Linked DNA regions of Homo sapiens. The protein of the gene in region 2 purifies or fractionates together with the protein of the main gene of each other region. This does not show direct contact. Each region holds a gene or a part of one and is shown on either strand. Other genes may lie near its edges.

Region 1 (11,764 bases), on a different chromosome or scaffold from region 2:
AGTTCGAGACCAGCCTGTCCAACATGGTAAAACCCCATCTCTACTAAAAATACAAAAAAATTTGCCAGGCATGATGGCATGAGTCTGTAATCCCAGCTACTCGGGAGGCTGAGGCAGGGGAATTGCTTGAACCAGGGAGGTGGAGGTTGCAGTGAGCCGAGATCGCGCCACTGCACTCCAATCTGGGTGACAGAGCGAGACTCCGTCTCAAAATAAATAAATAAATAAATGAACAAACCCACCTTCATTTTAGAATTTTCCATTGCTTATTTTTATTTCAATTTCTTATTTTAAAAATAAGAAATTCAAAAATAGACCGCCTGTGTAAGGTAGAGAATAGTGATTAAAAACAAAGATTAGGTAAGATAGCCCTGATTTGAATTACAACCTTGCTACTTATTAACTGTGTAAGTTTGAGCAAATTAAGTTCTTTAAGTCCTAGTTTCCTATAAAACGTTAAGAGAATTCCAGTACCTACAACTTGTATGGCTGTTGTAAAGATTAAATGTTATGCATGTAAATTGCATAGCATAGTGCCTGACACATAGTAAATGTTCAATAAAAGTTAGCAAGTATGGTAACAATAATGATTTCCTACTTGTATAGTCTCTTATTTTTATTGTTCCCCACCTCTAATGTCTGCAATCACTTGCCAAGCCTGATAAAGGTGAGGGTATATAAAAATTATAATCTCAGAGTAGGAGGCCTAATCCAGTAGACTAAAACTCACCCCACTCCTCTCTTTTTAATATAAATTGTCAACATTCATCCCTGGTCATTTGTATATCAAGTTAAGGAAGAATGCAAAGAAGCAGAAGAAAGACACTAGTATAAATATAAGTGGTTTTTTGAAAGCAAGAACATATTGGATCTAAGTTCTAGGACATGAGGAAGAACAAAAAAGCTGGGAAAACAACTAGAAGAAAGCAGGAGGCAGTGATCTAAAAAAGAGCAAGAGAAATAAAATGATTGGAAAGAATTTTAGGCAAAAGAATTTATGTAGATCTATGTCAAAAAGAGGGTATATTTTAAGATGTGAGGGAAATGAGATTTGCTGAAGCAGGGTAGCTTAAAAGACTACAAATGAAAGTGCAAAGCATTTTGTAGGTTATAAGAAGCGTATTACATATAAGTAAGCTAATAAAATTTTCACAGATGAGCAGTATTAAGAGGTATCTGCAAGGTTGGGCTAACCAACCAAAAATAACACAGAAATGTGCATGTTAACACTTATGTGCATAGCTAAATTTATTAATCCTTAATATATTTAAGAAGTATTAAAAGAAAAATCTATTCGCTTGTCAACACAAGCCATTATTAAGGCTCACCCCTTCAAAGATCTAATCTATAGACTAATGAAAATTCATTAGTTTGCTTAGTTTCCTAATCAAGTCTACATTTTGAAATTTCCCTATAATTTCCTTTTCTAATAAAGGATTTCCCCAAGCTAGAACTACAATATTTTTATGCTATGTTGCCCAGGCTGGAGTGCAGTGACTATTCACAGGCACAATCATAGCACATTATAGCCGCTAACTCTTGAGCTCAAGTGATCCTCCTGCCAGCCTCATGAGTAGCTGGGACTATAGGGGCACACCACTGAGCCCGACTAGAACTATAAAGAGAGGTGTTTTACTGGAATCTAAAATCAATTTAAAAATCAAAAATAGTATTCTAAAAAATAAATGGGATTAAGGTAGACTCAAAGTTCCACACCTCTTGGGTTAATTTTTTTTCCCCCAAATTAAGTCAATAAGAGCCAAAAGAAAAAGATTAACTTGCTTAGAATTACATCTAACAGTTTACAAGTTGCTGAAATTCAATGGGTATTCAGACTCAAATGCAGCTTACCAAAGAAAGCTATAAATATGATCTGAATTAACACCAGTCTGGTGGGGAAAAAAAAAGTGTATTGTATCAAACAGACTTGCTGTGATATCTGTTCAAACATACCTGTACCAGTCAAAAGTCCAGCACTCTTCTTTCGTGCATAAGCGCGTAAGTGGTTGGACAGGCTAACAGCACTTGTAAACGTCGTATTGCAATGCACACATGTTCTAAGCTTCACAGGCATACCTATCATTCAAAAGAAAACTATAATCCAGTTCTCACTTCAAAAAGTGAAATTTTCTTAGCTTAAAGAGTGTAGAAAAGCACCACAATAAAGATGGTTTTCAAAACGTTCAATGAAATAGGTTAACTTAAAATAAGGAGGGGAAATTAAGTTAACTGTTATTAGTTTGTAGTTAGTATTTAGAGTCAACTCATGCTCTTTGGAAAGGTAGACGAGGAGTGACTTGAACCTTTGAGCTCCTCTGGATATACACCTATTATTACTTTCTTGCAGATTTCTGTGTTACGCAGATTATTTCTTAAACCTACTACAATACAATCCTGTGATTTGAACAACACGGTTCTGTTGAGAAGTTTCAAAGCTTACAACATTACCAATAAAAAGAATTAAAAAGTCTAGTTGACAAAGTGGTAATTAAAGTGTTTTACCCACAAAACCGTAAAAGTCTCAATACTAAATTAGGCTTTCTGATGAAGGCTGGGAGAAAAGGTGGTAAAACACACCACTGAACAGCTGTTAGACACAACATTTTATTTAGGGTATTTTATGTTCATTACTCTGAATGCGCAATCAATAATGAAAGTTAATGATTTAAAGTTTTTTGCTAAAATCTTTGTGCTAAATAAATGATCAACAAGCTAACATCTTAGTCATCACAGGAAAAACATGTTCAAACAATAAGAAACTCCTAACTTCTCAGACAATCCTCACTCCCCCAACACATTTCAACTGGTTTCTTCAGCATTACTGTGATAGCCACAAATATGCTTTCCATCTCTGAAGTATACTACCCCTTGGTCAACACAGCTAACACATCTTCCCTGCGTTTTACCCTTCTGAAAAAATATTGAAAGCTATTGACTTTCAGAGACTCTTTATTCGAAAGAAAAAGCCGGATTAAACAGAAGCTCATACAAGATAAACTGCTTTCCAGACCACTTACAATACAAAGTTATCTTTCCTTAAATCAAAACTGCATTACAACTATTCGGGATATCACAATGTCTGCCCCAAAGCAAATAAACAACATTACTTTACAGTAATGTTAGTCGTTATTAATCCATTAACTATTACCTCTGACACATTCAACTTAGAGCTCTAATCATGAGACCATTTACATAAACCTTCAACATTAACCTTCAAAAAGAAATCTAGAAAAAACACTTAAAATTTTTCTAGTCTAAAAGTATAAACCACACTTGGCAATACTGAATAAAGTTTGGCTACTTTATCTGCCACATTATTTGCCAATACATACAAAATATTCCTTTCAAAAGGAAAAAACTATTGGTGCACCAGCACTAAGCTAAATCATCTGTCCTGTTCCATTAGAGCACTATCTTAAAACCTAAAACCCCAAACAAATATGTTTTATGTTCACAACTGTTCTCCAAAACCAAACTATTCCGCAATACAATGAGGAATTGGAGAGGGAGATGTTTCTTTGGGTTAATCACAACAGACACCAATCCATTCAGCTTTAAGAGTCTGTTTTGTTTTACCTAAGCAGTGGAAAAACCAACAGCTAAATCTTGAAAACATGATCACCTTGGAGAACTGGCAAAAATATGACAGAGGTATGCCTTTTCAATAATGCTATGCTTTTGAACATCAACCTCCCATCCACAACCATCCTCCAGCCAGAGCAAGTTTTATTTTTACAGATCAGCTTTTTGTTTGTTGTTTTTATTGTGTGTGTGTGTGGTTTTCTTCTGCTTTTGTTCTCACCTTACATTCAGACCAAGAAAAGAGGCACAGAGAACTCAGTGCTAATGAGCATCAATTGATGAGTTATACAGAAATGACAGTAGAATAACCAATCTGTGCTCTGTAAAAAAAAAAAGCAGCTTAAACAGGAAGATTGTGAGAAAGTATTTTCCACATAGATTCCATTAAAGAAGGCATAATTGAACTGCATTTAAACTGTGTATAGCATAGTCATAAACGTCCTCTTACCTGAGTGCATAGTCAAGTCCATTTTTTGTGGCTGATACATCAACGGACTATCCTCATTTAATGGAAGAACGCATTTCTGAACGAATCTCTTTCTTGCTGTCTGATTATGGATCTTTTGAGGAGAAATAGCAGAATTCCTTTCTTCTCCCATCCTTTTATTTTTAAGAAGTTCTATGAGTGTAAGAGACTGATTCTTTTTCCCACTGGGCAGTTCTGGTTTTGTTTCATCATATTCATTTAAGAAATTCAGCCCTTCTTCTTCTGATGCAGACACTGACAGAGCTTCAGTCTTTAGGCCATTACGGTATGCTTCAAGAGGTATAACATTTTGAGATATAAAGTCATCACTTGATGCAAGTTTTTGAGCTACAAATGGTCTGGGAATAATACGACGACTGTTCAATGCCTTTAAGATTTTTTCATATTTTTCTTCATTTTGCATCATCTCATTCAGAACACAGATTGGAGATTTGTGAGCATCCCATTTCGTCTTTCCAAGTCTTTTCAAGTGGCCTCTAACATGATTTGATAATCCAATTTTAGTATCAAACCAACCACCACAGAGCTGACAAGTGTGTTCAGAAGTGGTTTCAGACTTCTCTATAGCTAGAAAAAAATTTTTAAGAGTAATATCAGACTTTCTTATATAAACTGACCACCCTAAAATGAGTTAATTCTGAAACATAAAATTATGATTCTAATAAAGACTAAATTCAAAAAAAACTTTTAAATCTTCAGAATTAGAACACAGACCTATCAGCCCAAATCATCCCCATGGAGAACTTACCTTTTCTAACTCGTTTAACAGGTGTTCCTGTGCCAGTTCTTTTGAAATGCTGCATTTTGTCACTTGTGGCTATTTGTTCTGGTGATACAACATGACGGGCTTCATAGCTTAATCCTGCTCTGTGAAGATGCCCCCTGACATGATTTGATAACCCAACACCTGTTTCAAATGTTGCTGGGCAGTAAGGACACGATTTCTTCTCAAGAGACAAATCAGTCCAATGAAAAACAGAACTATGCTTTGACAATGAAGCATCTGCAGTTTCTAAATGCTGAGGATCATGTATCTCATGCAAAAAGTTGTTACTTCCAGTATCTTCATAGTATTCAAAATAAAAGCCATCGTTTTGGTCATAACTAAGAGTAGCATTTTCTCCAGGCTCCTGACCTTCCACTTTGCTCTTAAATAAAGGGAATAAATTTACATGCTCTTGATTAATATCACTATAGGTTTCATCTTCTATGGCCTGTGTAGTGTAGTCTCCTAACTCAACATTATCCCAGGAACTTTCATCTTCTGTTTCATAACTATCTTTCTTTTCAGCAGAATTAAGTTTTTGCAAAACGACAACAGTCATTTTATGCAAAAAATCTGGATAGCTATCCAAGTCTTCCCCTCCAACAGAACTTTCCTTCTTAGATTCCTTAATTACTCTCTTTACAGCTACACGTCTGTGATCTTTGAAGCTTTCAGGCCTTTTGGCGTCAGGCTTATGAGGGTCTGAAATAAAATTGTTGTGAGAATTACTTGATGATGAAAACAGGTGTAAAGAATTTAATGAACTAGCTTCTTCTTTTTTGAAATGCACAGGATATGATTCACCTGATTTTTTGATCATCCTATAGTTTTCATATTTGTGTCTATACAAATAGTGGCTATTTGCCTTGGCATTAGACTTTTCTTTTGCTGCTTGATGGAAATACTTAGGTTTTTGGTCAACGCTGCTTTTAATTGTAACATTCTTATGAGGAGAGCTGTTTTGATTGCACATGTTTACACCTGATTGGGCAATGCTTTTCCGAGCTTTCTGTATTCTGTGTGGCCGCTTATGAATTTTTGAAAAACTACTTGATTGTGAGGTTGATCCAAATGTTCGCTTCACATCTTGTTTTAAAGCAGAGTTCTTTGGAAATGTGGTTGACTGTTGTTTAGTTAATGTTTTAGTGCTATCACTATCTACAGGTTCTTCAAGGATGTCATTTTTTCTTTTATCAAGTCCAAGAGGACTACCAAATGAATCAACACATGATGATGAATGCAAGTACTCCGTGTGCTTTTTTAAAACACTTTTGGCTGAAGTAGTAAAAGGACACATCTTACATATGTAGGTAGCTGATTTTTTGGATGATCCTACTACAGAGTCTTTCATGAAAGTCTTTTTTTGTGTTTTTCTCTGGGCAATATCAGAAGTGACCATAGGGCATTTTACCACTGCCCCATGTGCAATGCCTCGATGGCATTCCAATTCATTTTCTGTCACTGCCATGAAGTTACACTCTTCACAGCAGTAGTACCTTTTATCTTTTTCATGGGTTTTAGCATGTTGCACAAATGTTTTAGGGCAATTGGTACCAAACACACACTGAGGACACTGTAATCGTGCACTTCTTCCTTCATCCTGAAGTTCTTTCAATTCACGAATTTCCTCCATCAACTTCTGTCTTCTCTCCTGGTGAATAATCATATGTTTTAGAAGTGAATTGCGATCTCGAAATGTCCGTCCACATTCTCTACAAGCATATGGCCTTGGGACATTAAGATGGCGAAAGTGACTATTCCCATCTAAATGATACATCATATGCCTGTGGAGGTGCTTCTTCTCCCTAAAATTCACATTGCACTTTGTACAGGGGTAGAATGATGGCTCTTCGGTACTGAAAGTAGCAGGTGACTCAGAATCACTCTCTTCACATTTCTTTTTTAAGGTATTTGAAAGAAAAGTGCTAGTATGAACAGGTGAACTCTCTTCTCCACACTTATCTGGGTTATAAATTAGATGTTGGAAGGCATCCACAGATTCTAAGTCTTCATCAGTTGATTCAGGCTTCACTTTTGATAATGCATATTTCTGTGAGTCTACTGCTTGTAGCTCTTCATTTTGTTCTAGAAAGTCTACTTCTTGCATTTTTGATTTATTGGGTACACAATTAGAATCACTAAAGCAATCCTCGGTATAACGAGTTATCTTGCTTACATCCATTTTTCGCTTTCTTTTTTTTTCTAGACCTATTTTAGAATGAGGTGGAGCTTTATCTACTGTTTCCTCATTAGTCATAAGAAATTGAATGAACTCTTTTTGGGGATCCCAGTTTGTATCATTTTCTGACCTAAATCCATCTGTACCTGAGGAAATTCCCGTTACTGTATTGACACAATCATCTTTCACCAATAAATCTTCACCATCCTCACCCACCTCTACTTGATTTATTAAAGTGCCATCTGACTTTATATTACTCCCTACTGAATTCTGAATGTCACAACCAACTGAAGCAGAGGTAGGTAGTTTTTTATTGGAATGGGTGGGATTCTTAGCATGTGCTACATCTGATAACAAAAATAAAACTTGGTGTTGACTTGCTTTCTGTGGTGTAGACAGCTGAAGATCAGCTGCTACCTTCAAAGTTGAACAAGATTCTGTTGTTGGCTGATCCACAGGCTGTCCAGTGGTTAATGAAACACTGCCTTTATTCATATTGGAAGTCTTAGTTAAGGAGGAGTGTGAAACTGGTCCATTAACAGCAGCTCCTTTAGGCAAGATAAAGTTTTCACTAGAAACAGTAGGAGCACCAGCATGTATAAATAGACTAGACTGGCCTCCACTTAAGGCGTTTTCAGATTTGTCCTTTGACAGTTCTTCAGGCAGAGTCAACGTATTATTTTTCTGAAATGATGTTTGACAATCTTTTGGCTTATGAACTCCGCTCTCTTTGTCTGAGATAAAATTGTTGTCATCTAGGAGTTCTTCTTTAGCACCAGTAATATCGGTGTTTATCTTCAAATCATCCATATTGTTGGCAAGCCCATTTAACACATTTAGTCTAGAAAATGGAAAAAAAAAATTTAGATTTGCATGAAAGAAAAAATACTATTAGAATGTATGGAGAGTTGAAAGTACATATTTTTATTAGTTTAATTTTCTACTCTTTATATTGAGATTCTAATAATTTTCCAAGAATGAAAGAACACAAACATATTGAAATATTTAAAAAGCACCTCAAAGGTTAATATTGTTCTTCATGCTAGGCAACAACAACAGTCCAATACGTCATGTATACAAAATGTCTAGGGAAAAGCAACATACACAAACACACTAGGGAAAAGCAGCATACACACAGATACACATGTATACACAGACTCAAAAACAATATAAATATGCTACAGACTGAAAAAATTTTAAACCTCACGTGGAGATTGCTAATACAAAGAAAATTCTTTCACTTAAGTAGGTTTATCAGAGGTAGTCACTCTATTCTAGAGAACAATATAAATTATCAAATATTGCAGAGAAGTAAAAGATTTGTCACTTATAAGTTCATTCCTGAAGGTAACAAAACACCATTCAGTAAATAACTTTATTGAATGAACATATTTGCTATCAACATCAATGTTTTATGTATGAAATAGTCCTTTTTAAAAGACTGCTTTGCTCTCAAGATGCTTAATGTTCTCCCAACATTCTATCAATTGTAAAAATGCTTTATTCATAGTTTTGTTCATTCCTTATTCAAATTAACCTTAACTATAATTTTAACTTTAGTAAAGTTAACTAAATTTTAGTAAAGCGAATTTTAACTTTACTAAAGTTAAAATTAATGAAGGTTTATGTCAAACTTTCATATGTGGGGCCTCAAATTCTAGGCATTCTCTAAAAGCAGTTATCCCACTTATGATCTGGTGGTCTAGTGCAATGGCCTAACACATTTTACAATAGAATAGCATAAACATATGTTTTAAATTTATTTCATATAAAATGTAGATAAAACTTTTCTAGGCATTTTTGATAAGATATTTAATCATTATGAGAAAAAAGTACAATATTTTTAAAGGAAACAGTATTTCTGAATGTTTGGGGTCCATTCACACCATGACTGTAATGCCTACCCCCACTATGAAAAGTTCCCTTGCAACCTGTTTTTTTCCTGCTCTTAGAAATGGCCACATTGGAAGTATCTGCCTTCTTCAAAGAATGTCAGCTCTTTGAGGGCTGGGAATGTAATCTAGTCACTATCATATCTCTAGAACCTAGTACATCACTTGCCATAGGTGCTCAGGCAATATTTGTTGAATAAAATACTGAATAAGTATTGGATTAATAAAAACACAATTTCAAAAATCAAAGTAAAAGTTCCTAAAGTGTACAGAAGAAAAACAGTTTTGTTCCTATGAAATTTGGATACCCCATTCAAACACAAGTTCCATCAGGTTCTGATTTATTAACTCAGTAATTATAATAAGGTCCTCAAAATATCCAGTAATTTTCATGTACAATTTAAAGAACCTGCTATTTGGCAACCCCAGGTATTAACTAATTGAAGTACTGGCATCATAAGCTTCCATATTTCTTCTCCTTTTTTGCAGTTATTCTCCAAATATTTCCTAAGCACTTAGTAGTGCCATGCATTGTTCCTGTATTCCAGATATAATGGTAAACAAGACAAGTTAGGTTCCTGCTCTCAGATAAAGAATGAAGCCTGTATATTTTTCTTTTGCAGTATTTTTAATTTGCATAACAAGTAATACTATTTTAGGGCAACAGGACCTTACAATCTAACATTTAGAAATCAAAACATGTTCAATATAGTTCAATATTTCTACTATCCTTTAAGGGTACCAATTTCATGCTTTGTAAAACATTAAATCTAATTCAAGAATAATAAAATTGTTCTTAGGCTGGGCGCGGTGGCTCACTCCTGTAATCCCAGCACTTTGGGAGGCCGAGGCGGGTGGATTACAAGATCAGGAGATTGACACCATCCTGGCTAACATGGTGATACCCCGTCTCTACTAAAAATAAAAAAAATTAGCCAGGCGTGGTGGTGGGTGCCTGTAGTCCCAGCTACTCGAGAGGCTGAGGCAGGAGAATGGCGTGTACCCGGGAGACAGAGCTTGCAGTGAGCCAAGATTGCGCCATTGCACTCCAGCCTGTGCAACAGAGTGAGACTCCGTCTCAAAAAATAAAAAACAATAAAATAATAAAATTGTTCTTATATTTTTCTTATTTTATAACTTAGAACAAGCACTTATAATCTGATCTTATTCTTTCCATAAAATGTTATTTAATACAACAAATACCTATTACCAGTATCTTTGACATTGTTTTTTATACCAACAATCATTTTTTCCACCCCTCGTAGGTTTTAGAATTCTGTTTTGAGATTGGCAAACTTCTGTGGTAATAAAAATAGACTTCCAATAAGATCACATTTAATGATATCACTCCAAAATGGTGCTAATGCATCACCCAGCAGGAGTCTCTACATCACATACACAGAAGTTAAAAATGGGCAGCACATAAACATGTGTTAGGAAAGGGTGTGCAAATGTCAAGGGAAAGAAAAGCAAGCCTTAATGCTACACTACCATTCATTCCTGATATTTCTCATTAAATTAGGTAGAAAACATAAAACGCTTCAATAGCAACAATCTCATAAATCTGAAACGAACGACAAAAAACTAGCTTGAAAGACAGTTACTTTCCTTTCCGTTCCCACTTATTATAATCACAGAGGTGGACAAATATATGCTAAGTCAATTTGAAAGCCTATATTAGTTTTTCTCAACAGGAAGCAATGTTGCTAACGAAGTGGTAAATTCAGTGTTAATGAGTGGCTTCACTGTTACCACCTCAGAGGTAAAACCTTCCATGTTCTATGTTCCACCCATCTGTTCTGGTGTTAGAGGTTTAGAGATGGAACAGACGCTTCCCATTTAAAGCAACTTCATTGGTACCCCCTGAACAGCAGGGTGACAAACTATGAGAACATCATGTCAGCTTGGAGACTGCATCCTCATTACCGGAATGGCTTTATAAGAGCTTTTCATAAGGTCACATTCTGAAGATATCAACCTGTTTTGTTCAAAAACATAGAAAAAATATATGTGCATAACAGATATTTTATCTACAAAACACATCTAGCAAAAAAAAATCCGATTAAATATTGTTAAAATATAAAATGAAGTCTTTAACAATGAAAGTTTTCCTTCACATCCACATAATAAAATATGGCTTACTTACCCCTAAATTATTAATTATCTCTACTCAAAAATAAAAGATGTTACCTTCTGCATCAGTTTGAAAATATGTTACAAAAGTTGACTTAGGAAGCTTTCTAGGTCACTCGGTAATTCTGATTAGATACAACCTTCCTGTCATCAAATCTATACTGTCCATTTTCTGTTCATGAGTAATTCTTTACTGAGAGAAAATTAGCTTAATTTTGTTCTTTTATGTACATTATTAACTGCATTTACTACAAGTAGATTAACGTTTTGTGGGTACTTATTTTAGGAACAATTAAAATGTTCAGAATATATTCTAATTATACAATGCTCCAAATATACTTCTTCTTAGTAACAGTACTCAAGACTCATAGCTGTTGTGCTGAGATACAATGCAGAACCATGGATCATCAAAATCTGTTGCACTGAATAATTGATACAGAATTTTAACATCATCAAAAATTATTTTACTACATTCATGTTGGGTTATGTGGCATCTAGGCAAGAAAGCATTTGACTTGAGTTAATTTTACACCATCTCAAATAGTTTTTCAACTACCTTTGTATAGTCAAATGTATATATAACAGAGACATCAATACCAGTTTAGGTTACTATAACAAAGTAGGAACGTATTTGAAGGTGGGCATTATTCATTAAGTTTAAAAAACAGAAGCTAATAAATTAAGATAAATAAACTGATGTTTGGACTCCTTATATATCAATTAAG
Region 2 (8,924 bases):
ACGTCTCCTGCAGTTGCCTGAACAGGCATATTTCACTGTACTCCAAATCTAGTATGATTTCCATGATAACTGTGTATTTTATGAGACTTGATTATTCTTCCATACTATTTTTTTACTGATGCTGAACACATATAATTTAATAACAAGTGACTTCATGATAAGAAATTTCCAATACTATAATACTCTCACAAAATACCTCATTCAAATCGAGGAGGGGTTTTGGCATTTAGTGAGAGTAATATGGTATTGGAAACAGGATGAGAGTGAAAGTGAGAAGTAATTCTCTCTTGGTCATGAATTCAGGTTTTGAAGTTCTCTCATCACTGCTCAGTTGCTCAGATATAGACATCATTACATGGTTATTACATTAGTAGAAGAAGCAGGAGTGCTAGCTTATAAAATAGATACAATAATACCTCCACAAGGGCACTAAAAGTATTTCTATCTGTTTGTTAAGGCTGCCATCAAAAACTACCACAGACTGGGTGGCTTAAACAACAGACATGTATTTTCTCACAATTCTGGAGGCTACACGTCTGAGATCAAGGTGTCAGCAGAATTGGTTTCTTCTAAGGCCTCCCTCCTTGCCTTGTAGTCTGCTGTTTTCTCCCGGTGTCCGCCTTAGTCCTCCCTCTGTACATGTGTGTGTCATCATTTCCTCTTCTTATAAGGGCACCAGGCAAATTGCCTTAGGACCACTCTAATGACCCCATTTCACTTAATTACCTCTTTAAAGACCACACCTATCTCAAATATAGTTACATTCTGTGGCACTAGGGGTTCAGACTTCACCATATGAATTTTGAGCAGACACAACTCAGCCTATATGGTACTAAAGACAGTATTAAAATAAGGCTGGGCGTGGTATGAATTTTGAGCAGAGACAACTCAGCCTATAACAGTATGACTGTTAGTTTTATATTAACACTGTTTATTTTTGAGACATAGTGATTCATTCAGAGGACAGAAGCAATCTGCTGGGAATTATCAGAGGTTCCCAAACCCAGTCTACCCGTGTCTGCCCTGGCATTCTCTGTTGCCCTTCTACATACAATGCTCTTAACTGAAGCCAGCCCCTCACCTCAGCTCAGGATCCATACCCCCCACCTTCCCAGGGGCTTTGCTCCTACAGTGATCACTCCCCTCTCCTGAACCATCAATGGCTCCCTCTACATTGGATCATTCCCAAAGCTAAGGGGGAACTCACCTTCTTCTCCCATGTCCTTCTGTAGCTACTAACATGTTTATCTGCTGCCCTTCAAAGGAAAACTGCCTCAACTTATACAACTAACTTCACTGGAGTAAATTTTCAAAGTTACCTAGAAAGGAAAATGAGCCAGAACAGCCAAAACCATTCTGAAGTATAACTTTGGGGAACTCACACTACCTAATATCAAGAGTCATGTTAATTCTATAGTAATCAAGAGAATGTGGTATTGGGGAAAAATCAACAGATCAGCAGGAAGTCCAGTAATGGACTCACAGACATGATAAACTGATTTTCAGAAAAGGCACAAAGGCAATGGAGAAATTATCTTTTCGAGAAACTGTCTTGTTTTACTCCTGCTACTTGGCCACCACATTCATTGTTTTTATCCCCCTGGGTCCCTTCCCTGTGTTTCTCCTTTGCACTTCAGCTGCTCTTCTGTTTAAGGGTCTTCTGTAAAGGTGCCCTCCTCCCCCCACCAACAGTGTGACAGCCTCCACAGCAAGTACCACATATTGTTGGTTGGTCTTCTCATTTCCAGCATCCAAGACATTTCCTATAACATGGCAGTCATCAATGCATATCTGTTGAATTAAATTATCAGTCTTTTGTAATGACCCTAACAGAAAAGCATCCCCTCTATTTAGGAGTCATTATTGGAGATGGTATGTTTCTAGGCACCTTACATATGGTTTTGTGTCAGACACTATAGGGCAAAGGCTCTGCCATGGTGTCTTGGAGATCTTGCAGGTCACCACATAGGACACGTAGGCAAAGCCAGACTGCAGGCTAACCTGAATGTTGGAAGAATACCTGGATTCCTTTTGTTGCAAGGGGAGATAGGCAGCGTGGTGGGAGCTGCCACAGGTATTTTCTCACCAGCTCCCTATCTGGTTGGAGGTTGACACGAGACCATTCTTTATCCATTTTCCTAGTTTCCATTAAGCACGGGCCTTTCCTCATCTTAGGGTACAACTGTGGAGTATAAAACTGCTCACTGTCTTAGGGTACAGCTGTGGGCTCCTCACAGGCAGAGAGACCCACCGTCTGTGCTGTCATTGTATACCTCCGATTCAGTGTCATACTGTGGGACTAGGGACACAGTGCTGACACAATGCTGACCTTGCTTTTACTTTGCCTGCAATCAATCAACCATTTGGACCCATTTGGGCTCATTGTCTTCTTATTGGTCAAATCTATGGATGTGTGACAAGCCAAACTAACAACGGCAGTGGGGCTCCTTGCTGCCGTTAGCCACTACAGGTGTACTGCTTGAACACTTGACACACTATTGTGTTGTGTGGTGTTGGCTGACCAGAAGGACTTATTCTTCACGGCATCACACACAGCAAAGGGCACAGTGTTCGGCACATTCCATTGACTTAGGGTTGGCCTTGTCAGACTGCGTTTATTCACAAACCAACTTTAGAATTGATGTCATGTCTGACACCAGCTACCCTGGTTTTTAATTAATATATTTATTTAAATTAAGTAAGTCTCAGAAGTCAAATTCATTTAAAAAGGTAACTTGATACCCCTACTTGAAATTTAAGAGCAGTTATTACTTACTAAACATGTGGTTGTAAAGGCAAAGGGAATGAAAAAAATTGAAATTTTAAAAGAAGAAATATAATAAACCAAATTTATCTACAGTGTATTGCCTAATCCATATGTTATTTCATTTATTCTTCATAACAAGTATTTAGTGTAAATATTCTAATTCCTACTTTAGAAATGGGGACATTGCCTCACAGATTATAATATCTTGCCCACCCCCTCAAGGCCAGTGTGTAAGAGGCAGGATGGAATCCCATGGGTATTTCATGCCATAGCCTATAAGGAGACAGTGTAGGTAGGACCCGTCATCTTGCTTCAGCAAGTTGCCCTGGTTCCTTGCCGCTTACTCCTACCTAGGCCCTAATTCTTTCATCTAGCTCCATAGCCTAGGGACTTCTCACATATTTTGTGGCAAATGGAACACCCTTAGAAAAGATGCAGATGAGGGGACACATAGGGTGAGGTATGCAGGGAGGGGCAGGGAGTTTCCATGGCCTCTACGGGCATGCTACCCTCCATGTGTTCAGCTAGCCAGAAGCTCTCTGAACCGTGTCCTTTTGGGTTTCATGGAGGTTTTCATTATGTAGGCATGACTGATTAAAATGTTGGCTTGCCATTGGTGAACAACTTAACCTTCAGCCCCAACCTTCCCTGAAGTTTGGGCATGGGGCTGAAAGTCCCAACCCTCTAATTCCTCATCCTAGAGCTCCTAGGGACTGCCAGACATTGGTCAACTCACTAGCATACAAAAAGACATCACTTTATAGGAGTTGTATGCCAGTAAGCACAGTCAATGACCAAATATACATTTCACCATACCACACTTGTGTATCAGCTAACTCAGAATACAAAATATCAAAAATGATACTTTTTTTTGAAACAGAGTCTTGCTCTGTCATGGAGGTTGGAGTTGCAAGTGGCGTGAACATGACTACCAGCATCCTCGACCACCTGGGCTCAAGGGATCCTCCCACCTATGCCTCCAGAGTAGCTGAGACTATAGTTGCATTCATTCATTCACTCATTGTAGTAGAGAGGGGTTCCTATATTCCCCAGACTGGTGTCACTTTCCTGAGCTCTAGCAATCCTCCTACCTCAGCATCCCAAGGTACTGGGATTACAGGTGTGAGCCATTACACCTGGCCACAATTCTCAATAGTATCAAAATACCTGGGAATGAAATTAACAGAAGAGGCTGGGCACGGTGGCTCATGCCTGTAATCCCAGCACTTTGGGAGACCAAGGCAGGCAGATCACGAGGTCAGGAGATTGAGACCATCCTGGCCAACATGGTGAAACCCCATCTCTACTAAAAATACAAAAATTAGCCAGGTGTGGTGGAACGTGCCTGTAGTCCCAGCTACTCAGGAGTCTGAGGCAGGAGAATTGCTTGAACCCAGGAGGCAAAGGTTGCAGTGAGCCAATATCATGCCACTGCACTCCAGCCTGGCGACAGAGCAAAATTCCATCTAGAAAAAAAAAAAAAAGAAAGAAAAAAAGAAATTAACAGAAGATGTGCAAGACTTCTTTGGAGAAAAGCTTAAAACTTTATTAAGATATTTTAAAGTAAAATATCTAATATAAAAACAGTTTGTGTTGTTTCAGCTTATCTTCCTTTAAACCTGTGATTTCCCTTCACCTGTAATAGAAACATAACAGGTGGAACATTACTAGCAGAACTGTATTTAGATCACATTAAGATATGCAAATGACACCAAAGTTTTTGTTTCGTACAGTGGACTAAGACCATAAACCCAAGAGTCACCCTCTGGCTTACATTCAATTAGACCTCTGTGGAGACTTTGGAGATAAACTTCCAAACATATACATTATTAATATTTTTTAAACACACCCTGCTTTCTAGTGCTACAAGGAAACCAAAAGACAGTCCGAGGTCAGAACACATTAAATCAAGTGAAACTCTTAAAAAGGGATTTAATGTATAAAGCAAAAATTGTGTATAATTTTACTAAAAATATAACAAATACACACAAAAAAACTAAGAAACAAAGGAATTTATAAAAAATGTACAATTTAATATTTTGGCTTGAAACTATGGTCTGGATGTCAAATAGGCTCCTGGAAATAGTATGAAAACTATCTTTTAAGAAAAGAGTTAATGTCACATTAGAAGCTGCATATGCGTGGTGAATAGAAAGGACAGTATTGCATTTGTTTTTTCCTCTATTGTGCCAAAGTGCAAAAATGTTGCTTTGGGTTAGTTTACCCTTCTGTAGATATTAAGGTATGGTAAACATCTGTCCCCAGTTTTCACCTATAGTCCTGATGTTAATACAAATATCTCTTTTTACACTTGAAAAAATTCCCCTTTGTATAATTAATTATATGATCGCATTACTTTTAATCTATCATTATCATTATTGATATCAAAATATGAAAGAGGTATATATCATGAACAGTATGGCACGAAAAAAAAGAAACGGAAAGGGAAATGGAGATGTAGAGGAAGACATCTAGAATAACTAAATATTTATTTCTAAAAGTAAATATTATCAAGGGACAACTAGCAAATTTCACAAGTTCATGCACAGTCTTTGTGATGAATAGATATTCAGGTACTACTGGGATATATTTAATAATGCATGCATTCCTAGCTTATCAACCATTTCATCTATATTCCGAAAATATTAGAGTTTAAGAACGTATTCACTTTCAGCTGGGCGTGGTGGCTCACATCTGTAATCCCAGCACTTTGGGAGGCCAAGGCAAGTGGATCACCCGAGGTCAGGAGTTCGAGAACAGCTTGTCCAACATGGCGAAACCTCGTCTCTACTAAAAATACAAAAAATAGCCAGGCATGGTGGTGCATGCCTGTACTCCTAGCTACTCAGCTGAGGCAGGAGAATCACTTGAACCTGGGAAGTGGAGGTTGCAGTCAGCCAAGATCATGCTGCTGCACTCCAGCCTGGGTGACAGAGCGAGACTCTGTCTCAAAAGTAAAACAAAAGAAAACAAAAGAATGTATTTACTTTCAGTTATACTACATATTCAATATCTGTGTCTTCTTCATATTCTGTATTGTGCTTTTCCCATTTTCTTCAAGACTGGAGAAACAAATAGATAGTCTATTCATAGCTATTTTTAAAATAAACAATGTGTTAAATGTATTACTTTTGGATTAGTTTTCCTAATCCAAAATCCAGGTTCCTACCTGTCTGTTATTAAGTACCTCTTTCCTTTTCCATTAGGTTTATTCTGTTGCTCTTTTATTATTATATTGATTATTACTTTATCATGTAATTTGCTATCTATTCTAATAAGATGTGCATTTAAGGCTGTGATCTTCCTAAGAATACAACTGAGGCTTGTTCAATCGGCTCCTGAAAACTATCTTTTAATGTAAATAGTTTAATGGAATGGTTCAGCAGTGCAGAGTAAAACATTTAGGTAATTTCTTCCCTAAACATGGAGTTCTTCCTTTAAATTCAGAAGCTCTTCTCATTAACAGTCAGCAATTTATAAAAAAAAATGTGTAAAAGATACTTATGTTGACTACTCAAGAATTAGTACATTATAGTCTTTGAACTTTAAGTCCTATCATCTGATGTCTCAAGGCAGAAACCTGTAATATGTAACCTATGATATGGTTAGAGGTGATTATATCATGTGTGTCTTTATTACACACAGTAGCTCATGAAGACTGACAGGAGAGCAAAAAGCATGCTTAGCACAGGCATCTTACACCCACCTTGAGCATGACTGACCTACATGCATTCTCCCTACTTCATTGGCCACAGAAAGTAGACTGTCTCTTGCCATTTTATTATTCAGTCATTCAAGGCTTCACGGTGGGAAGGCTTTAAAATACAATTATTCTTTAAAAGCCAGATAATTCAGAATTTGACAAAATCCAAGAACACTCATTCAAGTCTCCATGCTGGAAAACAAACATCAAGCAGAGTGCCTGCTCATTTTCTTAGGAGCAATGAAATCTCAGCTCAGATATTGTAATTGGACTGAAGCTGATTGTTAGGAAAAACAAATCATGGGAATCAGAATATCTTTCTATTCTCTCCAACAGAACCAGAGCATGCAGAAATCAGCATTGAAACGGATTTTAATACATTTGATCTGCATTCACCATTTTCAATAACAGCAAAGATGGGTGTAGAATTTATGGAATTTGTCCAGATTCTCACAAATTGTCATAGAGCTGCTACTAGAATCTCCTTCAGTACTCAGCATATTTCACACAGTCTGGTATTACAAATGCATTATGTATTTGTTAAAAGCAGAAATTAGAAAAGAATCTGAAAATTGTTAGCTGTTGGTTATACTCAGAAGTAAGAAAATGCTGTCATATTTGATGATTCAATATGGCTTTGACCCAATTTGTGTCTGTATCTGAGAGCATTTAAGTCTTGCAGTCAGGCATTGGGATCTGAAGTACCTTTCAAAGAAAGTGTGTATTTGAACACTGTTATTAAAGTGGCAGTAATATTATCTCTCTATGATCAAAAGTATAATATTGTAAAAAATAGAAATCACATAACTTTGTGTCTTAATGAATAACACACCTGCTTCTGGCATTTTAAAGTGCTCTGCTTTTGGTAGAATCTTCCCCTTGACATCAGTACCACCTTCACATCCATCCCCAGTCTTTGTCTGACATAGCTCCTGGAGATCGGCTTCCAGGTCAGGCACTAAAAAATACAAAGGTTATTGAACTTGAGTACAAAAACATGAAGTATAAATAAGGAAGTAATAATATTCTATTCCACAGAGTTATGACATAAAAGCCTGTAGGCTAGTGTGATAATAAATGTGATGCAAAGCTGTCACACTTTTGTTTTCCTGTATTATGAATTCCTATTTTATTTGTTTTTTAATACAGGGTTTCACTCTGTCATCCAGGCTGGAGTACAGGGGTGCAGTCACAGGTGACTGCAGCCCTGACCTCCTGAGCTCAAGTTATCCCCCTGTCTCAGCCTTGTGAGAGGCTGAGACTATAGGCACATGCCACCACCAAGGCTAATTTTTGTATTTTTTTGGCAGAGAAAATTTTCTGGTGTTTCCCCATGTTTCCCAGGCTAGTTCCTAACTCTCAGGCTCAAGGGACCCACCAGCCTCGGCCTTCCAAAGTGCTGGGATTACAGGTGTGAGCCAATGTACCTGGCCTGAAATCTAATATAAAATGACAATCTAAGGATAAATCACACTACACCTTCATTTCCTATACTTTGCCAGTGTGCATTATAAACAGTGAGTATCAACTATGTAAGATATCTGAAGTTTGCTGCATGAATAGCATTTTAATAATAACTCAAAGATAATTTTCTGAAAGACTAGATCAATGTATTCCTGGGCTTATGACAAAAACTTACAATTGTGACAACCATATCTTGCTGAGGTAATTTGAAAATTATTTGGTTAAAATTAATTAAAATTATGCTTAGGTCCAAAGGCCCTAAATGTAACTTTTCATAAATAAATCCTATTGAGAATATAGTACCAAAAATAAGAGGAAAAAAAGTCACAGTTTTCCCATGAGAATTCAGGAAATTGAGTGAAAGAAAGTAATGAGTGTTGTTGACAGTCATATTCTGGAAACCTCTTAACCGTGAACTGCTAAAATAATCCATGGTCCAAATTCCGTCAACTTTAGCTTGAAAATGCTATCTGTTGAGGACACAATTTCTGTTTCATGATAATTGTATCATACTTTGAGTTTTCTAATTATAAAAGTATTTAGGCAACTTTTAAAAGTTCCTTAAAAAGCATACTAATATACCTACCTGTATGCCAGTGTCCTGAACTATCCACCTTTTACCAAACATACTGTCAAAAAATACTGATCAAAGGGAACAGTGGCTGTCATTCATTGAGCCCTTTTCCGGATTTGCTATCCTGCTTCACTGAATTTGTTTTCTCCTGAGCCAATACTCAAGTACCTTACAGTACAGACACATTCGAGTATTAAGCGTTTTAAGCAAAATAATTCACGTTTTCTAATAACGTAGATGTTAGGAAGAACACAGACCTTGGAACGTAATATGAATTCTGCCTCCATGACTCAAGCGTTCTTGGTAAGCCTCTATCTCTGAGCAACCATTTCCTTTTTATAAAATAGGGCTAATATCCCTATGCAAATGGGCTTTATTCAGGGTGTTATAAGGTAGGGTGACTTGGCACTCTATAT
Region 3 (11,764 bases), on a different chromosome or scaffold from region 2:
AGAGACAGGTGCAGTCCGAGAAGACAGGTCCTTCCCAGACAGTGGGGCCTGGGGGCCCCAACAAAACAGCCAGGCCTGCAGATCACCCTACAGCTGACAAGCCCCCGGCAAGCAAGAGCTACCACCAGCTTTTCAGTAGTTTACTTTAAATATAAACGAGAATCACTGGGCATTTGAGGAAAACCTTTAGATAAGAAAAACTAAAACACAGCAGCATAAAACTTCAAAATAACCATAATACCATCAGAGAAATAAGGGAAGAAAAAGAGGCTACTGAAAGAGGAACTATCTAAGAGCAGAAAGGAATTACTGGGATTTGAAAATGTGACCACACATGTTAAGAATCCCCCAGGAGCTGGAAGCTGAAGGTGAGAATGCTGCCTAGAAGGCAGAACCAAAAGACAAGAAAACAGACCACGGCAGGAAATCGGTCTGGAAGGTTCCACACCTGAGTTATGAGAGTCCCAGGACAGAGCTGAGACAGGTAGAAGACCTGGGCACAGAAGTCACACAGGAAATCCTCCTAGAACTGACAGGTGTGGATTTCTGCACTGAAAGGGCACAGCACATGCACCAAATGCCCCAGTGGATCTAAAAAGACCCACATTACAATGAGGTACAACTTCAGACCAGTGGGGTTCAAGGAAAGTTCCTAAAGTCTCCAGAAATAATAGGTCACACACAAAGGATCAGAAGTCAGACTGCACCAGACTCAAACCTGGCACTTGAGAAACAGGGGATCCAACACCGGGATCAGGGAAGGGGCGTCACAGGGGGACAAACAGCGTCGTGTGTCTGAACCCAGAGACAAGCGGGCAGCGTTCAGATGGTTCAGAATAAATTAGCAGGTGGCAGAGTCAACTCAACCAACAGAAACACAAGCCAGTGATTAACGACAGACACAACATACCCTGTAGACGACGTGGTTCAGCTTGAAAATGCTCACACGATCTGATCTAAACAAAATGGGAGCCAGTCAACGGGGCTGGGGGAGGGGCGTCCGTGCCTCTGCGAGTGCTTGGCTCCCCCAGAGGGACGTCATGAGTGTGAAGAACCAAAACCAAAACCAAAGAAAGCAAATCAAGAAACAGCCAAATGGCGGCATGCTCTTCTCAAAGGCCGTGGTAAATGCCGGAAGAAACAGCGGGAAGCACTGATCCACCTGCAGGACTCGGGGGCAGAAAAGCTGACTCTGTGCCCGATTCACAGCACTACGGAACTCTTACACTGGAAGAACCGCGAACGTGGTATGATTTTACTTTGGTAAAAATAAAAGAGAGCAGGTGAAGAGCCCTAGGAGGGCGCCGTGCCGCCGCACCTGAACCAGCATGTGGCAGATGTCCACGTGTCCAGCCTCTGCCGCGGCGTGCAGTGGAGAGCGCTTATTCTGGTGCTCCATTTTGAAGTTGGGGTCAATTCCGTCCACTGTGAACAAACACAGTTTTATTAATGATTTCAGATGTAGCCACAGACTCCAGCTCAGGACTGTCACGATGGCTGGCAAGCACTCACAAATGACCATCCTCCACATAAACAGCCACCTCGAGCCACGCCGGAACCCGCCCACAGCACCATCCTCTGGACTTGAGACTTGAGTGTGCTAGTCTCCTGCGGAATTGAACAGGCAGGTCCCTCTGTCAGAACTAACTCGGCAAGGCACGCTCTTCCCTTTACCACCCTGCTCTAACTCTGAGGTTCCTTCTGTGTTTCTGTGTGGCCTGGCCATGGCCGCCCCAGGCCCAGTGAGGCGGCTGACCAGGGCAGACACACCCTAGGGGAGCAAGCAAGGCCGGGGACAGAGGCCTGAGCATCGGTCAATTCCCAGGAGGTCTGAGAGGACGGTGAGCAACGGAGCAGTGAGGTGACCTTCACAGGTGTCCTGTGAAGTCCATGACAAAATGATTAAAACTGCTGGTCAACATAAATAAACCTTTCTTTAAAAGCAAATAGTTTCACTTCTTTTTACTTGACGTACTGTCCAGTAAAGGGCTTCTTAATCATCCTTTTCAACCCAGAGACGATGAACGTCAGAGAAATCAAGCCTAAAGCTATGAGCTCAGAGACCAAATTATCACTGGGAAGGCTCTCTAACAAGTATGCTTTTGCGTATTAGAAATCTAATGCAATCGGTTTGCCTGTTATAAAATACCTATAGCTGAAGCCTACTTTGTCCACACCACAGCTGCTGCGATCAGCACAGGTGAAACATCGACTGCCGTCATCACCACACATTCCAGCGTCATGACCACACATCTCAGCATCATCACCGCATATCCCAGCGTCATCACCACACATCTCAGCATCATCACCACACATCCCAGCGTCATCACCACACATCCCAGCGTCATCACCACACGTCTCAGCGTCATCACCACACGTCTCAGCGTCATCACCACACATCTCAGTGATGCCGTCATCACCACACATCTCAGCGTCATCACCACACGTCCCAGCGTCGTCACCACACGTCCCAGCGTCGTCACCACACGTCCCAGCGTCGTCACCACACGTCTCAGCGTCGTCACCACACGTCCCAGCGTCATCACCACACGTCTCAGCGTCATCACCACACGTCTCAGTGATGCCGTCATCACCACACATCTCAGCGTCATCACCACACATCCCAGCGTCATCACCACACATCCCGGCGTCATCACCACACGTCTCGGCGTCATCACCACACGTCTCGGCGTCATCACCACACATCCCGGCGTCATCACCACACATCCCAGCGTCATCACCACACGTCTCAGCGTCATCACCACACATCTCAGTGATGCCGTCATCACCACACATCTCAGCGTCATCACCACACATCCCAGCGTCATCACCACACATCCCGGCGTCATCACCACACGTCTCGGCGTCATCACCACACGTCTCGGCGTCATCACCACACATCTCAGTGAGATGCCGTCATCACCACACATCTCAGCGTCATCACCACACATCCCAGCGTCATCACCACACATCCCAGTGTCATCACCACACATACCGGCGTCATCACCACACGTCTCGGCGTCATCACCACACGTCTCGGCGTCATCACCACACATCTCAGTGAGATGCCGTCATCACCACACATCTCAGCGTCATCACCACACATCCCAGCGTCATCACCACACATCCCAGCGTCATCACCACACATCTCAGTGATGCCATCACCACACATCTCAGCGTCATCACCACACATCCCAGCGTCATCACCACACGTCTCAGCGTCATCACCACACGTCTCAGCGTCATCACCACACATCTCAGTGATGCCGTCATCACCACACATCTCAGCGTCATCACCACACATCCCAGCGTCATCACCACACATCCCAGCGTCATCACACGTCTCAGCGTCATCACCACACGTCTCAGCGTCATCACCACACATCTCAGTGATGCCGTCATCACCACACATCTCAGCGTCATCACCACACATCCCAGCATCATCACCACACATCCCAGCGTCATCACCACACATCCCAGCGTCATCACATCTCAGCGTCATCACCACACATCTCAGCGTCATCACCACACATCTCAGTGATGCCGTCATCACCACACATCTCAGCGTCATCACCACACATCTCAGCGTCATCACCACACATCCCAGCGTCATCACATCTCAGCATCATCACCATACATCTCAGCGTCATCACCACACATCTCAGCGTCATCACCACACATCTCAGGGCCACAACTCACTAGTTTTGCTTTTCCTTAATCTCTATTTCTGCTTGATTTAATAATCACATACCAATTCCTTTTTAAAAATTAGAACTTCGTAGAGAATAGTTCTAATATCTTGCGTAACTGGATATGAACACCATAAAAAGCCTCAACACCAGTGGGCAACCTATTCTCACTCATCAGAGAACTCGGAGACACAGAAACAGAAAACCAAAACGAGACCAGCCTCCTGAGGAAGGAGTAACAACTGCTCTCGGCTTCTTTCAGTGCCACAGGGCCGGCTGCATGTGCCCGGGCCGCAGGAAGGCACTTACCCAGCATGAGGAGCACCTTCTGAAGCTCCCCTTGCCTGGCGGAGAAGTACAGCTGCTTTGGGTGGAAGCGAAGCTTCTTGGGTCTGTGGGAAGCACAAGACAACAGTCAGCATGGGGCTCTGCATCCCACACATGAAGCTGAAGGCTGGAAGGCCCGGCGGACATCTCCCCACCAGCCCCTCAAGCTCATGGGGCTCCGCGTCCCACACATGAAGCTGAAGGCTGGAAGGCCCGGCAGACGTCTGCCCACCAGCCCCACAAGCTCAAGTGCAAACCCACCAGTCGAGATATCTCATGGTAAAAACTGCGGACAAGAAACTGCGTTCCCAGTCACCGCAGGAGAACACTACGCACTGTGAGGCTTTTACACAACACGACGACAGAACCAGCGCAGGATGCAGGGGAACCTCATCTACGCTCAGCACAGCCGGGACCAGCCCCAGCCAGGATGAGCCCACACAGCGTGGTCACGAGTGAGGGCACAGCTCGCACTACAGAAGATGTCCTGGGCGGTGAGAGCTGGGAACACTGGCACTTTTGCTCTGAAACCTTAACTCGATGACTAAGCTGATAACTGATATGGTGTGGACCTCTGTCCCTCCCAAAACTCACGTTGAAATGTGACCTCCAGTGTTGGAGGTGAGACCTGGTAGAAGGTGACTGGATCCTGGAGGCAGATCCCTCATGAATGGCTTAGTGTCATCCCTCCCCCTGGTGATGAGTGAGTTCCCGCTCAGTCAGTTCCCACAAGATCTGGTCGCTTAAGAGTCTGGGAGCCTCCCCCTTCTCTGTCTCTTGCTACTGCTCCTGCTTTGCCTTCCACCATGACTGTAGCTTCCTGAGGCCTCCCAAGGAGCAGATGCCAGCACCATGCTTCCTGTACAGTCTGGAGAACCGTGAGCCAATTAAGCCTCTTTTCTATATAAATCATCCAGCCCTGGGCATTTCTTTATATTGACACAAAAGCAGACTAACACAATCACCAAGGGATGGGGGAGAGAGTGGGGTCAGGAACAGTCTGGGGTCTGGTCAGCGAGCAGAGCCTGTGGGTCAGGAACAGTCTGGGGTCTGGTCAGCGAGCAGGGCCTGTTGGCGTCAGCAGATGGTACCGTCGCTTCAAGAGCAGGCTCAGAGGCGAGGCTGGAGGCAGACAGAGGGGAGATCCAGGGAGGAGGCACCGCAAGCCTCACTGCCACAGTCTGGTCTGCCTCCCTGGTGGGGCAATGCTGAGAGGAGGACGAGGAGGGGTGGGTTTTTGTGAGCTGTCGGGAAAGCCTGGAGGGCCCCTTGGCCCAACCCTCGCATTGCACAGATGGGGTGTGGCCTGGGAGGGAAACGGAGTCAAGGCAGCAGAAGCAGTGTCTGCTCTCATGACCTAAGGGCAGCTCAGGGCCAACAGCAACCAGGAAATGTTTGTCAAAGCTCACCAAGACCTGCCTCCTCACTTAGGACTTCAAAGGTGTCAGAGGTTGCTCTTACTATAATGCAGAGGACAGTAATTTACAATAATTTCCCAAAATAGTGTGAAAATATACGAATTATTCTAACGAACAGCATTAATCAAAAAGCTGAGAAGTGCTAAAGTGACACCATGGGGAAAAACGCGGGGTGCAGATTAAAACAGGCTCTGAGACATCTCTGAAATCACATGTCAGGTCTTACTTTTCCGAGTCGAGGGCGATGAGAGCGCTCTCCAAGGTTTCCTTCCCTGGTCCCTGGGAAAGGCCGGGAGTTGGCCTCCCAAGCCCAGCAGGTCCCGTTGGATCAAAGCCCTCGGGCACGTGGGAGGCTGCACCCTGCAGCTTGTCGTCCTCCGAGAGTGGTGGCCCGGCAGCACTTCAGGGGAGGAAATCGGGGAAAGGTTTATGAAAACACGAAACATGGCCTGTTCCGACTCTGACTGCCCGAGAGCGCTGTTTTCTAAGTGAGAGCTGCGGATTTGCTTACTGTCCGCTTAGTCCCTGGATTTAACGGTTCAGGATTCAGAACCAAATTTCCTGAGAAAACTAGGGCAACTTTTCCTAGACTTCTGGGCAGCGTGTTCAAATACACTCTCATGAATGAGCTTCAAGCTGAATCTATCAAGTCCACTGCCCACCCCAACAAAAGGAAATCCCACTGGAATTTTGATTCAAAGTGCATTAAATTTACAGGTTAATAGGAAGGAATCACCTTAACATGTCCACAATTTGAGTCTCTTTTAAATAATCTTCAAGGAAGTTTATTTTCTTTATATTAGTGTCACATTTAAGTTCTTTGTTCTGCTGGGTAGTAACAAGTTTTGTTGCTGTTTTGAAAGGGTCTCTTTTGTTATTTTATTCTCAGGCAGGGAACTGCTGCTAAGGAAGAAGGCAAGTGGCTTCTATCTCTTCTTATCAGATCCTCTTACTGACTCTTTTGAGCTCTAAAAATTTTTCAGCTGTTTCTACTGGACTCTTTCAGGAAGACAATTGTATCTGTCTAATATGAACACTTCTAATTATTTTAGACTTTTTTGTCTTCAGCTAAGGCCTTCAAACCTTAATACCACAGAACTCGGTCACAGACTGCAGCAGCCACCACTCGTCTATCGCTTGTGTACCAACAGGACTGTGCCATCAACAGAAACACCACAGAGCTACATCAATGGGGGTGCTGTGAAAACCGGTTCAAAACAGGCAAATGGATCTACATAACCAAACCGAAAGAGAGCAACGTATGCACAAATGGCAATAAATGAATTTCAGAGTCTTAAATGTCAGAAATCACCATAAGCATCAGCATCAGCTCAGAGACTTCTGGAAAAAACAGCAGGAAGCAATAACGTTGAGTTAACAACTGAAACTTTTTCAGGTGGACGACTGGAGAGCCCAGCCAGAGCCTGTGCCAGGTACCTGCCCGTTGTGGTGTCGGCCCTGCCCTCCAGGGCCGAGCCCTTCTCCTGCCCGGGGACTGGTGTCACGGTCGAGGTGGTGTCTGCTTTAGCTATCGTCACCTCTTTGGCCTTGGAGCTCTCCTCCCCACAGTGGGGACAATAGCTGGCGTTATTGACTCGAGAGGCACAGTCTTTGTGGAAACGGTGAGAGATGCTGCTCTCGGGCTGACACTCCATAAAATTACCCTAAAAATGGGAGGACAAAAAAAAATTTTTGTTTTAATTGGGGTTAATATTTAGAAAAATAAAGTACTACTAAACTGGCACCGCATCCCACATCGGGCGGTCTGCAGAGTGAGCCATGGGTCGGGGTGGGGTCCAGTCTTGGCCCCAGGCATCGTTAAGAAGGAGGAACGATGCTTCCCGTGGTGCTCTCGCCCCACAGAGAAGAAGCTGAAGCCAGACAGAGGTCACTTGGCTGCCTCCAACCCACCTAGGCCCAGGAAAGCTGAGGCTGCCCGCAAAGAGAAGGCCTAAAGAAGGACCCAGAAGGCCCCTACTCTGAAGGGCGGATAGGGACAGGGACAGACGACAGCACCTCAGGGCACAGCATCAGGCAGGTGGAGCTGCCTCAGTGCCCAGCAGTGCGCAGCAGATGTGGTTTGGCGACCCAGGTGAGCCTCGAGGAGGGGCACACAGCCGTAAGAACAGCATTTTCTTGCAGAAAGCCAGAGATAAACAGATGTAGCAGAACCAAAAAAAGGATGTTTGAAGATGGGGAGGACATGCAAGGTGTGAAGTCCAAAGAAAGTCTCCCAAAAGTGGAAGCTCTTGGCCCATGTTCGTAAAGGGGCAGCAGGGCATCTCTGGGTGCCTGAAGCTCACACTCAAACACTCACACACACAGGCGCACACAGACAGACGCTTACAGGCAGAGGCTCACACAGATGTGTGCGCGCACAGACACACACACACACACACCCTACATGCACGAGGATGCCCACACAGGGGAGCTCCAAAGGGAAGCAGCCCATTCTCGGGGGGCCCTGGGCACGGCTGAGCACAGATGTTTGACATTGAAGTAACTGATGACCCAAGATCCCAGCAGAAACAGCCCAGGGCACAGCAAGGTGCTGCCACCTCTCCCAGGAGCTGTGTGCTCTGGACACCCTTATCATGGGGGGTGAATGTCCTCAGTACACCCTTGTCATGGGGGATGAACGTCCTCAGTACAGCCTCCACCTGGAGTCTCCAGTGCGTCACAAGCCCCTCACCACTGCTCTCGAGCCCCAGTGCCTTAGACACCTTCACCCCCAACCCTCACTTCCCTCCTCTGGCCTGGAAGCCCAGGTCACACCGTCCTAGTCATCTCCAAAAGCGGTTTCCAGGCGGTAGGAGGGAAATGGGGGTTGGGGGTGAAGGTGTCTAAGGCACTGGGGCTCGACAGGGGTGGTGAGGGGCTTGTGAACACTGGAGACCTCCAGACGGACACCAGACCTGGGCCAGCTGCTGGACCACCCGACAGCAGGTGGACACAGGACAGGAACCAGCACCAGTGAGCAGACAGCAAAGCCTGCGGAGGACTCAGAGGCTGCCGGACTGGGCTCTTACCGCTGTGCAGAAGTAGCCACAGCCAGGACAGCACTGGTGCTTCACCATGCGGCCCCGGTGGTCTTCACACAGCACGAGGAGCGGGGCCTTGTTGGAGGGGCGCATCAGCTCATACTTGACCACGCTGTTTGTGCACCGGCCCAACTGCAATCAGACAAGACTGGTGGTCAATGTCAGAGTCACGAGAGGCCGGCATTCCCTCCCACCAGGCGCTGGGCAGTGCAGGCACACAAGAGCTGCTCAGCAGGTGTGGGCTGACTGAGCCGAGCCCTGCAAGGCCAGCTTGGCTTTGCAAGCACTTATCGAGCACCTGCTACACGCCTCAGCACGGGGGACAAACAGGGAGCCCAGAGAAGGAAACGCCCATCATCTGCACAAACTGCAGGAGGCAGCGGCACATGAGCAGGTCCAGTGGGCCAGGCGCGACCACACCCACCAGATCCAGGGGGCCAGGCGTGCCCACACCCACCAGATCCAGGGGGCCAGACGCGACCACATCCACCAGATCCAGGGGGCCAGGCGCGACCATACCCACCAGATCCAGGGGGCAGGCGTGCCCACACCCACCAGATCCAGGGGGCCAGGCGCGACCACATCCACCAGATCCAGGGGGCCAGACGCGACCACATCCACCAGATCCAGGGGGCCAGGCGCGACCATACCCACCAGATCCAGGGGGCAGGCGTGCCCACACCCACCAGATCCAGGGGGCCAGACGCGACCACATCCACCAGATCCAGGGGGCCAGGCGCGACCATACCCACCAGATCCAGGGGGCAGGCGTGCCCACACCCACCAGATCCAGGGGGCCAGGCGTGCCCACACCCACCAGATCCAGGGGGTCAGACGCGACCACACTCACCAGATCCAGGGAGCCAGGCGTGCCCACACCCACCAGATCCAGGGGGCCAGACGCGACCACATCCACCAGATCCAGTGGGCCACATGTGCCCACATCCACTCACATGCGCCTACCAGAGGGCCGGCTGCTCAACTCTGGCAGAAGTCAAGGAAGGTTCTGGGGTGAGAGGGGTTCTGGGCTGGGTATCCAGGAAACATGAACGTATACCTGGCAGGACAGTCCAGGCCATCACAGGCCAGCAGTGGGCAGCGGTACAATGAATCTGTGGGAGCCCCAAGGATTCTGGGGCAGCCAGAGGAACCTGCACACAAGGCAAGGAGCAGGACACAGAGTCTGGGGCCTGACTGGGGAACATGGTCACTGGAGGATTCTGAGAGGACCAGGACTTGAAGGCGCCTGTGGAGGTGGAAGCAATGAGGGCACCCAGGATGCCAGGCACTCTGCAGCACACCAGACAAAGCCTTACAGGTTTGCTACGGAAAGTTCTCTGATAGCCAATAAGAAAACAAGAAGTAGCCCCCCCAAAAATAAGCAAATAATTGAGTGGCATTTCACTAAAGAAGAACTACAAATGCCCCCCAAAGGAAATTACACAAAGAAATTCAACATAAGCCTCTGACATTCTTCGTATTCGGTCTGGCACACTGCAAAGCTGGTATCTGTGGGGTCTGCAGAGATGACACACCATCACTGTGAGTTCTGTCCAAACTTCACAGCAAGCAACTTGGAGACATGAATCAATTACAAATACATATTCTTAAGACTCCACTTGAAGATATAATTAAGTGCACAAACATGTATCTAGAAGGACCCAGCTTTTGCAATAACAGAAAAGTAGGAACAACCAACCTGTCTACCTGCAGAAGAGTGGCTGCAGGGCACGCCCAGGTGGCATAAATGATCTACCCTGAAGCCAGCAAGAGACTTCTCGATGCCCAAATGAGGCTGCATTAGAATCACCCAGGCAACTTTTTTAAAAGACAGTCTGGGCCCCACCCCAAACCTATGGAACAAGACCTGAAAGGCGTAGAACCAGGGCATGTACATCCTGAAAAAATGCCCCCTCCACACCACCACCACCAAATGCTTCTGCAGTGACTCCCTGGTTCAGGACCAGCGGCTGCAGGGCACTTGTACCTACTGACTTTGAAAAATGTTTACATTAAAGGAAAAACAAGTTATTTTCAAAAATTCAATGTGGTTATACACATAGAAGTCTAGGAGAACATACAAAAGTACTAAGAATGATTCCCTCAGTTTTGGAATAAGAAGTGATTTTACTTTCTTATTCATGCATGTATGTAGTATCTGGATTATTTTACAATCGGCATGCATTATTTTTACAATCATAAAAACGATAATGCTGTATGATTCTGGCTCTGTGCTGTGTAAGAAGGAAACACAGAAGGGAGCTGCGGGGTAGGGGGTCCAGGCAGAACGGCAGGAGAATGTAAGGAAGGAGATGTTCTGGGAAGGATATATCAAATAAATGACAATGGGATCCAGTTAGGGTTGGGAAAAAAGAGATAAAACAAGGAATCCTTTAACAAGGTGGGAAAAACACAGATGCACTGGGGTGGCCCCACTGAGGTCACCATGGGTGGGAGGGGCACCCTGGGTTCACCACAGCAGAGTACAGATTCACCGACTGCTGACCGGATCCTGAAGGAGGGACCAGAACAAGAAAGGAGCCCACCACAGGGAGGTGCTGTGCTTTCAGGACAGAAAGCAGCTGAAACAGGTACTGACTTCACAAAGTAGAGATAACCCAAACCTGCTTGCCTGAAGGTGGGTCCGCACCGGCAGAACCCTGGAAGGCTAAAGAATCAGGGCCAGCTTCGGTGGCAGGGGCTGAGCTGGTGTAAATACAGAGCTGGCGAGGCGGAGCCTCAGACGAGGTCCATGCAGCTAGGCACCCCACCTGGCGCAGGTGAGGGGTCACCCTCTGCAGAGGTGGCCACAGAGCTCACTATCTACTCTCCACACAAGCCCACCGCTACAAAACGGTTTCCTATTTTTTTAGTGTCTGTTTTATTAAATATTCTATTAAGAAAACTTTCAAAAATAGAGACAAACGTAAAATGTATCCCCATGTGCCCATGCCTAATTTCAAAAATTACCAGTATTTTCTCTTCTCGTTCAAGCCATCCCCTATAACCTTTTGTGCTTGGAGAGGTGTGCTGGTATATTTAGCAAAGTACCTAGGGGTAAAATGATGCCATTTTAGCCATAAATAACTCCATATGCATTGCTAACAAATCATACTTCATATAACCTTAGAACCATTATCAAGCGGAACACAGGTAGCACTTTCTCAGCGCAATTTAATACCCAGTGCCCACAGGCTCTGCAGGGCCCACAGGCTCTGCATGGTGGCTTATTAGGACACAGTGGGGTGTGCAGCTGTCCTGGGCTAGCCTTTCCTCAGCTGTGGGAATG

Evidence for each region.
Region 1: the proteins of XAGE2 (region 2) and ZNF644 purify together in Homo sapiens (affinity purification with mass spectrometry; 2 studies listed by BioGRID and IntAct, with this or other methods). This does not show direct contact.
Region 3: the proteins of XAGE2 (region 2) and EHMT1 purify together in Homo sapiens (affinity purification with mass spectrometry; 2 studies listed by BioGRID and IntAct, with this or other methods). This does not show direct contact.

The regions. Positions count from the first base shown.
Region 1 is NC_000001.11:90,933,455-90,945,218, forward strand, and holds part of ZNF644 (zinc finger protein 644), read right to left. Parts: intron 7,856-11,764; coding exon 4,818-7,855; intron 4,637-4,817; coding exon 4,031-4,636; intron 2,077-4,030; coding exon of another isoform or gene 1,954-2,076; intron 1-1,953.
Region 2 is NC_000023.11:52,371,048-52,379,971, reverse strand, and holds the end of XAGE2 (X antigen family member 2), read right to left. Parts: intron 7,429-8,924; coding exon 7,303-7,428; intron 4,404-7,302; coding exon 4,381-4,403; 3' UTR 4,292-4,380; downstream 1-4,291.
Region 3 is NC_000009.12:137,771,952-137,783,715, reverse strand, and holds part of EHMT1 (histone-lysine N-methyltransferase EHMT1), read right to left. Parts: intron 8,608-11,764; coding exon 8,464-8,607; intron 7,099-8,463; coding exon 6,872-7,098; intron 5,835-6,871; coding exon 5,661-5,834; intron 4,082-5,660; coding exon 3,999-4,081; intron 1,426-3,998; coding exon 1,319-1,425; intron 1-1,318. UniProt on the Homo sapiens protein: Histone methyltransferase that specifically mono- and dimethylates 'Lys-9' of histone H3 (H3K9me1 and H3K9me2, respectively) in euchromatin.